2 linked regions of the Homo sapiens genome follow. The protein of the gene in region 1 purifies or fractionates together with the protein of each later gene. This does not show direct contact. Each region holds a gene or a part of one and is shown on either strand. Other genes may lie near its edges.

Evidence for each region.
Region 2: the proteins of PTPN12 (region 1) and PSTPIP2 purify together in Homo sapiens (affinity purification with mass spectrometry; 5 studies listed by BioGRID and IntAct, with this or other methods). This does not show direct contact.

What each region holds. Positions count from the first base shown.
Region 1 is NC_000007.14:77,532,755-77,540,305, forward strand, and holds the start of PTPN12 (tyrosine-protein phosphatase non-receptor type 12), read left to right. Parts: upstream 1-4,540; 5' UTR 4,541-4,792; coding exon 4,793-4,891; intron 4,892-5,288; exon of another isoform or gene 5,289-5,352; intron 5,353-7,551. UniProt on the Homo sapiens protein: Dephosphorylates a range of proteins, and thereby regulates cellular signaling cascades. Dephosphorylates cellular tyrosine kinases, such as ERBB2 and PTK2B/PYK2, and thereby regulates signaling via ERBB2 and PTK2B/PYK2.
Region 2 is NC_000018.10:46,062,026-46,069,293, forward strand, and holds part of PSTPIP2 (proline-serine-threonine phosphatase-interacting protein 2), read right to left. Parts: intron 1-7,268. UniProt on the Homo sapiens protein: Binds to F-actin. May be involved in regulation of the actin cytoskeleton.

The sequences.
Region 1 (7,551 bases):
TATTCCTCTAAGTGAATTTTTGAAATACAGAGCAAAACTGTATCTCTTTGCATGCACACACATATATAAATGCATAGGAAAAAATTTGGAAGGGCATAACTTGAAGTGCATTTTTTTCTTTTTTCTTTTTTTTGTTTTTTTGTTTTTGTTTTGTTTTGTTTTGTTTTTTATTGATCATTCTTGGGTGTTTCTCACAGAGGGGGATTTGGCAGGGTCATAGGACAATAGTGGAGGGAAGGTCAGCAGATAAACAAGTGAACAAAGGTCTTTGGTTTTCCTAGGCAGAGGACCCTGCGGCCTTCCGCAGCGTTTGTGTCCCTGGGTACTTGAGATTAGGGAGTGGTGATGACTCTTAATGAGCATGCTGCCTTCAAGCATCTGTTTAACAAAGCACATCTTGCACCGCCCTTCATCCATTTAACTCTGAGTGGACACAGCACATGTTTCAGAGAGCACAGGGTTGGGGGTAAGGTCACAGATCAACAGGATCCCAAGGCAGAAGAATTTTTCTTAGTACAGAACAAAATGAAAAGTCTCCCATGTCTACTTCTACACAGACACGGCAACCATCCGACTTCTCAATCTTTTCCCCACCTTTCCCCCCTTTCTATTCCACAAAGCCGCCATTGTCATCCTGGCCGTTCTCAATGAGCTGCTGGGCACACCTCCCAGACGGGGTGGTGGCCGGGCAGAGGGGCTCCTCACTTCCCAGTAGGGGCGGCCGGGCAGAGGCGCCCCTCACCTCCCGGAAGGGACGGCTGGCCGGGCGGGGGGCCGACCCCCCCACCTCCCACCCGGACGGGGCGGCTGGCCAGGCAGAGGGGCTCCCCACCTCCCAGTAGGGGCGGCCGGGCAGAGGCGCCCCTCACCTCCCGGACGGGACGGCTGGCCGGGCGGGGGGCTGACCCCCCCACCTCCCTCCCGGACGGGGCGGCTGGCCGGGCAGGGGGCTGACCCCCCCACCTCCCTCCCGGACTGGGCGGCTGGCCGGGCGGGGGGCTGACCCCCCCCACCTCCCTCCCGGACTGGGCGGCTGGCCGGGCGGGGGGCTGACCCCCCCACCTCCCTCCCGGACGGGGCGGCTGGCCGGGCAGAGGGACTCCTCACTTCCCAGTAGGGGCGGCCGGGCAGAGGCGCCCCTCACCTCCTGGACGGGGCGGCTGGCGGGCGGGGGGCTGACCCCCCCACCTCCCTCCCGGACGGGGCGACTGGCCGGGCGGGTCTGACCCCCCCACCTCCCTCCGGACGGGGCGACTGGCCTGGCCGGCGGCTGACCCCCCCACCTCCCTCCCGGACGGGGCGGCTGGCCTGGCGGGGGGCTGACCCCCCCCACCTCCCTCCGGGACAGGGTGGCTGCCAGGCGGAGACGCTCCTCACTTCCCAGACGGGGTGGCTGCCGGGCGGAGGGTCTCCTCACTTCTCAGACGGGGCAGCCGGGCAGAGACGCTCCTCACCTCCCAGACGGGGTGGCAGCCGGGCAGGGGCGCTCCTCACATCCCAGACGGGGCGGCGGGGCAGAGGCGCTCCCCACATCCCAGACGATGGGCGGCCGGGCAGAGACGCTCCTCACTTCCTAGATGTGATGGCGGCCGGAAGAGGCGCTCCTCACTTCCCAGATGGGATGGCGGCCGGGCAGAGAGGCTCCTCACTTCCTAGATGTGATGGCGGCCAGGCAGAGACGCTCCTCACTTCCCAGACGGGGTGGCGGCCGGGCAGAGGCTGCAATCTCGGCACTTTGGGAGGCCAAGGCAGGCGGCTGGAAGGTGGAGGTTGTAGCGAGCCGAGATCACGCCACTGCACTCCAGCCTGGGCACCATTGAGCACTGAGTGAACCAGACTCCGTCTGCAATCCCGGCACCTCGGGAGGCCGAGGCTGGCGGATCACTCGCGGTTAGGAGCTGGAGACCAGCCCGGCCAACACAGCGAAACCCCGTTTCCACCAAAAAAATACGAAAACCAGTCAGGCGTGGCGGCGCGCGCCTGCAATTGCAGGCACTCCGCAGGCGGAGGCAGGAGAATCAGGCAGGGAGGCTCTTTTTTTTTTTTAGAGACAGAGTTTCGCTCTTGTTGCCCAGGCTGGAGTGCAATGGCGTGATCTCGCTCAATGCAACCTCCGCCTCCTGGGTTCAAGCAATTCTCCTGCCTCAGCCTCCTGACTAGCTGGGATTACAGGCATGCGTCACCACGCCCGGCTAATTTTTTGTATTTTTAGTAAAGACGGGGTTGGTTTCACCATATTGGCCAGGCTGGTCTTGAACTCCTGACCTCAGGTGATCCGCCCGCCTCGGCCTCCCAAAGGGTTGGGATTACAGGTGTGAACCATCGCGCCTGGCCTTTTTATTTTTATTTTTTGAGACAGACTCTCGCTCTTTCACCCAGGCTGGAGTGTGGTGGCACGACCTCGGCTCACTGCAATCTCCGCCTCTCAGGTTCAGGCGATTCTTCTGCCTCAGCCTCTGGAGTACCTGGGACTACAGGCGTGCACCACCACACCCGGCTTTGTATTTTTAGCAGAGACAGGGTTTCACCATATCGGCCAGGTTGGTCTCGAACTCCTGACCTCAAGTGATCCACCCAACTCGGCCTCCCGAAGTGCTAGGATTACAGGTGTGAGCCACTGCACCTGGTCTGAAGTGCATATTTCTGGAGTGGATGTATTAGTTGGATTATTTTAACAGAAATATTTTCCTTTTTTTGAAGAAGTAAATAAACTATATCCTGTTACACCTATTTTCTTTTCTTTTTTTTTTTTTTGAGACAGGGCCTCACTCCCGTCGCCCAGGTTGGGGTGCAATGGTGTGATCACAGCTCACTGCAACCTCCGCCTCCCGGGTTCAGGTGATCCTCCCATCTCGGCCTCCCAAAGTGCTGGGATTACAGGCGTGAGCCACCGCGCCCGGCCTACACCTATTTTCTTCAATGAGTTTTTCACTAAATTCCATAGTGCTCCTAACTTTCATCTGAGAAAGTATTCTACCACTGATATTTCCTATTATAACCAAATTCGCTGACCAATCTGCTCTGTAAAAAAAGGTTTGTGGGTATAAATGACGAAAGTCAGTTCATGGATCAAATCCTTCAGTTCTGTCACATTGTGAGAGGCCACTGTTGTGAAAGTAAAATAACTTCTAGTTACGGCTCTGCTAAGAATACGCTGGGGGATGTCAGGAAGTCGCTTTATTTGTAAAATGATGAGTTAGACCAGAATATATTCTCTGATAGAAGTTTACAAAGATGAATAAAGATTTATAGGCTAGGCGCGGTGGCTCACGCCTAAAATCCCAACACTTTCGGAAGCTGAGGATCCCTAGTGCACAGGAATTCGAGATCAGCCTGGGCAACCTGGTGAGACCCCCTTCTCTACCAAAAATAAATAAATAAATAAATAATAAATTTTTAAAATGTATTAGCTGGGCTTGGTGACGTAGTGAGGCAGGAGGATGCCTTGAGCCCAGGAGTTCAAGGCTGCAGCGAGCCGTGATCATAGCACTGCACTTTGGCATGGGAGATAGAGCAAGACCTTAGCTCTAAAAAAAAAAAAAAAAAAAAATTAATAGATTTATAAAGTCCATTCTATGGAGGAAAGTCTCTTATTCAGTTATGAACTGCTGCGAACCTAAAGGCAGGAAGGCAAATTCCCTTCAGTTCGGCAAACACGAAGACCCCACATTCGCGTCGTCTGTGAAGAAGGCACTCCGAACCTCAGGCGCTCACTCGCCAGGTTTAAGAGGATGAGCAAAGAATAAAAGTCCTCTCACCCAGGAAGCGTTTCGCTTCCCTTAGCTGGAGCCACGCTCCAAGGTGCCAAAGCCTAATTGCTGTCCACTCTCACCAATCCGTTAGCAAGATGAGCATCTACCTGCTGCGAACGTGGCGGTGACACTACTACAGCTCCCAGCCTGCCTCCCGCCCGCCCCCACTCCTGGACTCCACAGACCGTGACTTGTAGTCCCAGCCCACGGCTGGCGGCGGTGCGGGACTCCTGAAAACTGCTTTTCCTCCCTAGTAGGCGGTGAGACCGCAAATTCCATCAGAATCCTACTCTGACCCACTAGGGCTTGGCCCGCTCAGAGTCGCATTCCCTCCTCCAAATGAACCAACTCTCCTCCCAGCGATACTCCGACCTCTGAGCACCCCGGGCGGGGCCACGCCCCGGAAATGGAGTCAGGTCTCCAGGCCGCCCGCTGAAGTGCCTTCCAGCCACTCCAAGCGGGGCTGGGGCCGGCGGGGCGGGCTTGGGGGCGTGGCCGGGAGGCGGGCGGGGATGCATCTGCGGGCGCAGCGCTTGGGGCGGAGCCGCAGCGCGAGGCCGCGCATCTGGGTGGCGGCGGGGACGCGCCCGTGGGGAGAGGCGGCTGCGGCTGCGGCTGCGGCTGCTGGCGGGGGGTGGGGGGGAGGAGGAACCGGGAAGGGGGGGCAGGGCGAGCGGAGAGCTAGCTGTGTTCCTGAGGCGGCGGCGGCGGCGGCGGCGGCGGCGGCGTCTCCGACGGAGGAGGAGGGCGGGGAAGGAGGATGGAGCAAGCTGGGGGTTGGGGTTGGCGCTAGCGCAGCGGCTCGCCTGGTACTGTGGGAGAGCGGCGGCTGCTCCTGGAAGTTGTGGTGTCGGGAGCCCAGCCGGTGCCGCCGCAGCCGCCGCCTAGGGCGGTGGGGAGGAGGAGGGAGCCGCGGGGCTTGGCGGGGTCGGGAGGGAGGGACGTGCTGGGGGAACGAGCTGGGGAAGACGGAGCGGGCTCTGTGCCGGGCGGGCGGGCGGCGGGGGGGCCAGCGACCGCAGCCGGGGGGACGCGGGAGGATGGAGCAAGTGGAGATCCTGAGGAAATTCATCCAGAGGGTCCAGGCCATGAAGAGTCCTGACCACAATGGGGAGGACAACTTCGCCCGGGACTTCATGGTGAGTCTCTCCCCTCGCTGTCGCGTTTTCTTGCCGGCGCCGGAGCCCATCGCCGCCTCTCCCGGCCGGGCCGCCAGTGCTTTGTGTACCTCTGTGAGGAGAGGGGCGGAGGGGGCGCGCACCAGCCGGGTGAGCCGGGTGGTCTCGGAGGCCAGCGGGAGGCGAGAGCGCCTCCCCCCGTGGCCTCCTTTCTTCTCCCATGTTCGCGACCCCCGCGCGGGTTCCCGGGACGCGAAGGGAGCGGCCGCGCGGCCGAGCCCGCAGCCTGCACCGTGGCTCGCGACCACCTATTGTTTACCGGGCCGGGAGCCGTAGGCAAGTGAGGTGCAGGCCGGGGGGGGGGGCTCGCGTTTCCACACCTCCCCGCGCAGTTCGCTCCTCCCAGGAGGGTCGAGGCAAGGTATCTGGCTGTGACCGGGAGGAGTGCAGATCGTGGCTGACAGAGGAACGGGGGTATTGAGGTTGGCACTAACTCCTGGGATCCCTTTGCTCTAGCTGGTCTCAAAGCGGGCAGGGTAGGACTTAGGCCGTTTCTGGGGTCGCAGTCATGATCTCCAACGCTTGGGAAAGGATTGCCCATAAGGAATCTCATGGGTTTACCTAATTTCCATTTACCCGCGTCCCGCTTCTCCTCTCCTGAGGCCCAGGTTTGAGGTGGTCTTGGGGTCCGTGTGACTATAGGTTCAGGGGATAAGTGTGGGTGGGGGAATTATCCTGAAGGAAGCCAGCCGACTTCGGACTCCCCAGGGGATATTGCCGAAGGCGGAGGGGATGTGACTATCACTTCCTATCCGGGGTGGGGGTGGGGAACTTGGGAACAATAGTCCTGGTGGGGCGGAGGCGACGCTACGGGCCGAAGCCCTGAACTGGGAGATAACCTTCCCAGCGCCCCCCCGCCTCCGCCACCCCCTACTTTCCGCCCTCTGCTTGTGCAGGCAGTCTTGAGAGGAGGTGAAGGTTAAAAGTCTTGTTCATGAAATTGCTCTAGATACACTATTGCTTTAGCACACTGTGAGGGGGTCAGATCCGAAGGCGTGAGACCAGAAGTCGACTTCCTACGTTACCCACCCCCCCAACCCCCGCCCTTTTTATTTTTCTGCTGGACAATGTTCCCTCTAGGGTTGTTTCCCGGCTTAGGAGGCGGTGGTTGCGGCTGCTGCTCCTACGGATATTGCGCAAGACTGGGGCGTTGGAAACCCTGTAGGTCTGGGGAATGAAAAAGGAAGTGGGACTTTGGGAAGTGGTTGCTCCTTAGTCTTGGCGGGGGTTGGGAATGGGAAATAAGCTGGGGAAAATTTTTATCTTGGGTAAGGTACACCTCGAAGAATAATCACTTAATTCTGAAATCTGATTATGAGAAGGATACACAGTTAATGCCTGTAAAATGAATGGGCAGCAAACATTGGCTAGTTTTTATTTTTTGTTTAAAAAGTACAGTAGTTTTTATGGTGGAGGTGATATGACTTAGTAGTGAATACTTTTTCACGTTTTAAAGAGACTGGTCTAGTAAAGCTTTAGCGTTAAATTTTTAACAGCTTATAAAATAGGCCCTTGACCATACACAGTATTATACTAGCATCGTTGAGCTTTGTGATTCCCGCCTCCCCAGACCAATAATAGAGGACGGAAGTAAAGTTTTCTCAGTATCTTTTGAAGATTGAAAATATAAGTTAAATAATCTAACTTATTCCTTATTAAAAATAAAAATATTGCTTATATTTAAACATTTGCTCTTGATATTTAGCCTATGTATTTTTGAAAAATTACTTTTTGATCTGAAAGGGTTAAGGAAAACGGCATTTTCCCTTTTTACTATTGAGAGTTTTTATTGTCTTGGTATCTTTTGAATGGTGTCATTTACAGCAATTGGATGGAGTCCCTTTTTTACTACTTTCTAGCAAAAGTAGAAGAAAATACTTTGAATATTTAAGATGTTTAAAACTAGTTTTTTTGGGTTTTGTTGTTTGGTTGGTTGGTTGGTTGGTTTTTTTTTTGAGACGGAGTCTCGCTCTACGCTCTGTCGCCCCGGCTGGAGTGCAGCGGCGCAATCTCAGCTCACTGCAACCTCTGCCTCCCAGATTCAAGCGATGCTCCTGCCTCAGCCTCCTGAGTAGCTGAGATTATAGGCACGTGCCACCACGCCCGGCTAATTTTTGTCCGAAGTAGCCGGGACTACAGGCGCAAGCTACCACGCCCTGCTAATTTTGTATTTTTAGTAGAGATGGGGTTTCGCCATATTTGCAGGCTGCTCTCGAACTCCTCATCTCAAGTGATCCATCTGCTTTGGCCTCCCAAAGTGCTGGGATTACAGGCGTGAGCCACCATGCCCGGCCTAAAACTAGTTTTTTACCGTCTTACTTTGGTTATGGAAGAAGAGATGGTGTGGTCCCTGGTCATTTCTTGTTTGCATGCTAGTCACCTTGTTATCCCTAGGCATATACCGTCAGGAAGGAGCATTGTTTGGTGATGCGGGCCATCAGGACAGGTTGCCCAGCCTCTGAACTCCTGTACTGGAGAAGTGGCCTTAGGGTTCATGCTTTGGGGATGAGTCAGGGATTCCTATTGGAGAGTTCATTTCTTTCTTTCTTTCTTTCTTTCTTTTTTTTTTGAGATGTAACACCTCGCTGTGTCGCCCAGGTTGGAGTGCAGTGGCTCAATCT
Region 2 (7,268 bases), on another chromosome or scaffold:
AGAGGACACACCATGGAGACTGCTTTCTCTGGCAGTTCAGCTTGCATGCCTCACTCAGCAAAACTAAGCTCAGAAGTTAGTTAGGCTCCTGCCCTTTAGAAGGCATGTGCTTCAGATAGGGATGGGGTCTCAGTCTCCCTACCCTGAACAGCTTATTCAAGTCTTCCTTCCAGCCTTCCAGCCTTGTGCCACACCATCCCCTCCCTGAGAGGTATTCTGAAAACAAAGATTTCCCCATCTTGTTGCATGCCTGGTGCCATTTTAGCACTCTTCAAGGAGTGGTACCCTATCGCACTCACCCAGCCAGACTTGTCCAAGAATCTTGCCCTGGTATGCTAGGCATGGTGGCTCATGCCTGTAATCCCAGCACTTTAGGAGGCCGAGGTGGGTGGATCATGTGAGGTCAGGAGTTCAAGACCAGCCTGGCCAACATGGTGAAACCCCATCTCTACTAAAAAGAAAAAGAAAAAGAAAAAGAAAAAGAAACTTGCCCCAGTAAACCACTTTTTTTTTTTTGGAGACGGAGTCTCGCTCTGTCACCCAGGCTGGAGTGCAGTGGTGCAGTCTCGGCTCACTGCAACCTCTGCCTCCCAGGTTCAAGCAATTCTCCTCCTGAGTAGCTGGGACTACAGGCACATGCCACCACACCTGGCTAATTTTTTTCTACTTTTAGTAGAGACGGGGTTTCACCGTGTTAGCCAGGAAGGTCTCAATCTCCTGACCTCGTGATCCACCTGCCTTGGCCTCCCAAAGTGCTGGGATTACAGGCAGGAGCCACCATCCCGGCAGGTAAACCACTCTTTTTAGCCTGAAGGAGAGTAGGTCAGTCTGTTTCCCATTAGTGTCCTACATCTTTGTTTGCTTCCTTAAGAAGAATGTAGGACCCTGAGGGCAGGAATCCACCTCCTCCTCATTTTGCAGGTCCACACAGGTCTCTGACTTCTGCAAATGTCAGAACACTTAAGCCCTCATACTCAAAAGACAGTATTTTTAGTGAGACAGCGTCTTGCTCTGTCATCCAGGTTGCAGTGCAGTGGTGTAATCACGGCTCGCTGCAGCTTCAACCGCATGGACTCAAGTGATCCTTCTGCCTCAGCCTCCTGATTATCTGGGACTGCAGGTACTGGCCACCATGCCTTGCTAATTTTAAAATTTTTTTTGTAGAGACAGGGTCTCAATATGTTGCCCAGGCTGGTCTTGAACCCCTGGACTCAAGCAATTGTCCCACCTCGGCCTCCCAAAGTACTAGGATTATAGGCATGAGCCACAGCGCCCAATCATAAGACACATATTGAGTAAAACTTGGACCACAGAAAACCTCGAAGTGTAATAGAAGAAATCACAAAACTTTAGATCAATAAACTTGACTGTATAAAGTGTTTTCAAAATCCATATACATATATCATTTTACAGATGAGGAGGCAAAGCTGAGGAAAGCTGAATAATTTGAACACGGGCACACACATTCTTTGGCTTGAAAGGAGCCAAACTGGGAATCAAACCCGGGAATGTCCAGTGCAAAAGCTTGAGGGCCTGAGGACTGCCTCTCACTGTGTCATGCCTATACTGGATGTTAGAACATGTGAATTACACACACACACACACACACACACACGTGTATATATACAAAAATATATATTTTAAAATATGCATATAAATTTACAAGCAAAGCATGAGGAAGAAAACAAAACCATTTGTAAAAGAGGAATTACAAGAAAATAACCAAATGTGCACTCTCCCTGGTGATAAAAACGCAAATGAAAGTTGAATAAGGCACCAAGTTTTGCTTATTGAATGAGCAGAAAAAAAGACAATAGCTATGACTGACAGAGTGAAACTAGCATCCGCACATACTATTGGGAACACTGAGAATAGGCCCACTCTTTAGGAAATCATCCTGGTTCTACATATCAAAAGTTTTTCAATGTCCTTCTGTTAGTTAATGGTTTTTTCAGTCATTCAGTAGGTATTACTGAGAATCTGTCATGTGCCAGGCATTGAACCAGGCACCACTGGAGTAAGCAGACAGGAGTGTGGGTCCTCACCCCAAGGGCAGCCATGCCAGCCCTGGAATGACCAATCAGGGGCTTGTAGATGAGAGAGAAATAAACCTCTTCCTTGTCTAGGCCACTGTTGTTTTGGGGTTTTCTATTACTTGCAGCCAAACTGAATCCTATTTATACAGAAGGTAAGTGAGCTTTCACCAGCTGCTCTGGTTTCTTTTTTCTTTTCTTTTTTTCTTCTTTCTTTTTCTTTCTTTTTTTTTTTTTTTTTTTTTTTTTTGAGACAGAGTCTCATTCTGTTGCCCAGGCTGGAGTGCAGCGGAGTGACCTTGGCTCACTGCAACCGCCCCCTCCCAAGTCCAGGCGATTCTCCTGCCACAGCCTCCCGAGTAGCTGGGACTACAGGCACCCACCACAACACCTGGCTAATTTTTTTTTTTTTTTTTTTTTAAGTAAAGACGGGGTTTCACCATGTTGACCAGCCTGGTCTCCAACTCCTGACCTCAGGTGATTCACCCGCCTGGGCCTCCCAAAGTGCTGGGATTACAGGCATGAGCCACCACGCCCAGCCCTGCTGTCTGGTTTCTTAATGGAGTAGAGGCAAGATCACCAAAACACAGTGAGAATGTGGGAGGGATGTGTAGGTTTGAGTGGAAAAGGCATGAAATTATCACTGCAGAAAGGGCAAGAGTGACTTATTAGAGAAACATAGTAAAATGGCTGGGCAATGATGAGTTCTGTCTTGAGTTTCCAGAAATAGATACTTAAAGAATCCCAATTTTAAATACCTTACACGAATGACATGCACCACATTCTTTATTATAGAAAACACTGGGCCGGGTGCGGTGGCTTATGCCTGTAATCCCAGCACTTTGGGAGGCTGAGACAGGCAGATCACCTGAGGTCAGGGGTTCAAGACCAGCCTGACCAACATGGAAAAACCTCATCTCTACTAAAAATACAAAATTAGCCAGGCATGGTGGTGCATGCCTGTAATTCCAGCTACTTGGGAGGCTGAGGCAGGAGAATTGCTTGAACCCAGGAGGCGGAGGTTACAGTGAGCCGAGGTCGTGCCATTGCACTTCAGCATGGGCAACAAGAACGAAACTCTGTCTCAAAAAAAAAAAAAAAAAAAAGAAAAGAAAAGAAAAGAAAACTCTAGAAATTACATAAATGCCAAACAGTGACAGAATAGTTGTATCACTCACAAAACTTTTCTAAATAATTGTTAGGGAAAGTAGATAGCAATATATAAAATAAGTTATAATTTTTTTTTTTTTTGAGATGTAGTCTGGCTCTGTCGCCCAGGCTGGAGTGCAGTGGCATGCTCTCAGCTCACTGCAAACTCCGCCTCCTGGGTTCAAACGATTCTCCTGTCTCAGCCTCCCAAGTAGCTGAGTACAAGTGCCCACCACCATGCCTGGCTAATTTTTGTTTTCGGTTGTTTGTTTGTTTTGAGACGGAGTCTCACTCTGTTGCCCAGGCTGGAGTATGGTGGTGTGATCTTGGCTCACTGCAACCTCCGCCTCCCGGGTTCAAGTGATTCTCCTGCCTCAGCCTCCCGAGTCGCTGGGACTACAGGCACCCACCACCACGCCCGGCTAATTTTTGTATTTTTAGTAGAGACAGGGTTTCACCATATCGGCCAGGCTGGTCTCGAACTCCGGACCTTGTGATGCACCTGTCTCAGCCTCTGAAAGTGCTGGGATTACAGGCGTAAGCCACCGCGCCCGGCCAATTTTTGTATTTCTTTAGTAGAGACGAGATTTCACCATGTTGGCCAGGCTGGTCTCAAACTCCTGATCTCAAGTGATCCACCCGCCTTGGCCTCCCAAAGTGCTGGGATTACAGGCATGAGCCACTGTGCCCAGCCAAAGTTACGATATTTTAATTAAAGCAGTAGAATACAAGATAGTACAGATACTATAGGATTATAATTATGCATGGAGGAAAAAAGTTGGGAAAGTACCAAATCACTAATAATATATATTTTAATAACCTTAATTTTATGTTAATATTAAAAACTATTGGCCAGGTGCAGTAGCTCATGCCTGTAATCCCAGCATTTTGGGAGGCCAAGGCAGGCAGATTGCTTGAGCTCAGGAGTTTGAGACCAGCCTAGGCAATATGGTGAAACAGCGTTTCTACAAAAAATACAAAAATTAACCAGGCGTGGTGGCATGTGCCTGCGGTTCCAGCTACTTGGGAGGATTGCTTGAGCCCAGGAGTTTGAGGCTGCAGTGAGCCGTGATCGCACCACTGCACTCTAGCCTGAGTGACAGAGCAAGACCCTGTCTCAAAAATAAATAATTTAATTAAATTAAAACTACTGTTTTAAAATTTCATGTTGAGACTCATCTTCTTGAGTAGCTAATAATCTCTTAGAGGTGAGATGTTGTGTGTCTGTCTCTCTGTGAGCCCACAGCAGCTACCACAAGGCTGGCCACTCAGACTTCACATAGACATTTGCTGAGTTGAACTGCCTGAGATTACGTGGGGAATGGAGAAGAAGTTCCTCTCTTCAACAAGTTGCTGTGTTTTCTCCGTTGGTCACAAGGTCTCTCACCAGAAGGTGAGCCCCACGTGTGTGGGCTTTGTGCTGCACCCCTTCTTGAGTATAGGGCTTCTAAAGAAGCCAGAGCCCGTCCTTAATGATATTCTCCTCATGCAAGACCACCAGCCAGTCACAGCAGAACAGTTTCTTTAAAAGGGTGGAACAGGCCGGGTGCGGTGGCTCACGCCTGTAATCCCAGCACTTTGCCCAGGCGGGCGAATCACCTGAGGTCAGGAGTTCCAGACCAGCCTGCCCAACCTGGTGAAACCCCCGTCTCTACTAAAAATACAAAAAATTAGCCGGGCGTGGTGGCGCATGCCTGTAATCCCAGCTACTCGGGAGGCTGAGGCAGAAGAATCGCTTGAACCCGGGAGGCAGAGGTTGCAGTGAGCCGAGATCTCGCAACTGCACTCCAGCCTGGGCAACAAAAGTGAAACTCCATCTCAAAAAAAAAAAAAAAAAGAGGTTTTTGACGATTATTTTAAAGCTAGCTCCCTCCGGCTGCTCTACAAAGAATGTATGGGAGAGCAGGTAATTGTTCATGACTCTATCTTCCCTTTTGCCACTAGGCAAGACAAAAGGAAACAGCCCTCCTGGTGTGTTTCTGGGGACCAGATTGTCAAATTAAATTCGACCTAGGCTGGGCGCAGTGGCTCACTCCTGTAATCCCAGCACTTTGGGAGGCCGAGGCGGGCGGATCACGAGATCAGGAGATCGAGACCATCCTGGCTAACACGGTGAAACCCCGTCTCTACTAAAAATACAAAAAAATTAGCCGGGCGTGGTGGCGGGCCCCTGTAGTCCCAGCTACTCAGGAGGCTGAGGCAGGAGAATGGTGTGAACCCAGGAGGCAGAGCTTGCAGTGACCCGAGATCGCACCACTGGACTCCAGCCTGGGCAACAGGGCGAGACTCTGTCTCAAAAAAAAAAAAAAAAAATGTTGGCCTAAAGCTGCCTCCATAAATAGCAAGCCACAACCTAACTTAGTGTGTAAACAAACCGTAACCTAACTAAGAGTATATTCTTGTAACAAGTAGCTGGGTCTCTGCCAATCATAACAGGGGAGCTTTCAGCCAATCCCAGGCTGCAGACTGCCCAGTCAAGTCCAAATAAGGCAACCACCCAGGTGTAACCAATCAGGCTATTTCTGTATCACCTCTTTTTTCTGTAAGTATTGCCTGCCCACTTTTGCCTTGTGGAGCTCTCTGAACCTTTACTGGTTCAGGGTGCTGCCTGATTCATGAATAGTTTCTTTGCTCAGATAAACTCTGCTAAATTTAACTAGTCTGAAGTTTTTCTTTTCATAAAATCCGAGAGAGTATTTAAAAATTACAGCAACAATCTAAACATTGTACAAAATACACTATGGGGTCAGCAGGGAGACTCTGTGGTGTTAACCTGTATTCTTTCTGTATTTTTTTTTTAAAGCAGCCTCCTATATTTATCTAGAGCACTGTACAGTCAGTTCTCCATATCTGCATCCATGGATTCAACCAACCACAGATGAAAAATATTCCAAAAATTAAAAAATAAAAATATACCAATTAAAAAATACAAATAAAAAATACAGTGTAAACAACTATTTACATAGCATTAACATTATATTAGGTATTATAAGCAATCTGGAGAATACTTAAAGTATACAGGAAGATGTGTGTAGGTTATATGTAAATACTACACCATTTTATAGAAAGAATCTGAGGACAGGCATAGTGGCTTACACCTCTTTTTTTGAGACAGATTCTCGCTCTGTCGCCCAGGCTGGAGTGCAATGGCACGATCTCAGCTCACTGCAAGCTCCACCTCCCAAGTTCACAGCATTCTCCTGCCTCAGCCTCCTGAGTAGCTGGGACTACAGGCGCCCACCACCATGCCCGGGTAATTTTTTTGTATTTTTAGTAGAGACGGGGTTTCACTGTGTTAGCCGAGATGGTCTCGATCTCCTGACCTCGTGATCCACCCGTCTCAGCCTCCCAAAGTGCTGGGATTACAGGTGTGAGCCACCATGCCCGGCCGGCTTACACCTCTTATCCCAGCACTTTGGGAGGCCAAGGCAAGAGGATAGCTTGAGGCAAGGAGTTTGAAACCAGCCTGGCCAACATAGCAAGACCCAATCTCTGTATTGAAAAAGAAAAAAGAAAAGAAAGGACTTGAATGTCCATGAATTTTGGTACCTGCATGGGAGTCCTAGAACCAATCCCCTACAGATACCAAGAGATGACTGTATAGAGAAAAACCATTGAGCAAAGCCAGAGGCAACATCAGTTCAAACTCTGCTAAGGCTCCAGAATGACAAGATTCCAATCTGGTAAAAGGTTTGGATGAGAGTGACAGCCTTGTGTTGACAGCAGGGCAATGAGCCAGTTCAGACAGCCCCAAGACTTTCCCTAGTCAATCCCAGGCAGAGAGAAGCCCTGCCCACTACAGGAACAGGGTTGCTGAAACAGCAACTAGGAAGCTGGTCTACACCAAGAACCTTGGGAATCAGGAAGGCCCAGGAAAAATAAGTATCTACAGGAGGTTCAGGGACGATTTGGACCTCACACCCAAGTGAGAAGCCTGGAAATCCCCAGGGGTGAGAGAACACTGCTTTCATCTACCCTTCCAAAACGGGTCCCACTGTCACCCGTGCATGCCCGTATCTGAAGGACACTGGTGTCTGATCATCCCAAAAACTGGAATTTTTTCTCATTGTGGCCTGGCTGTTTCCC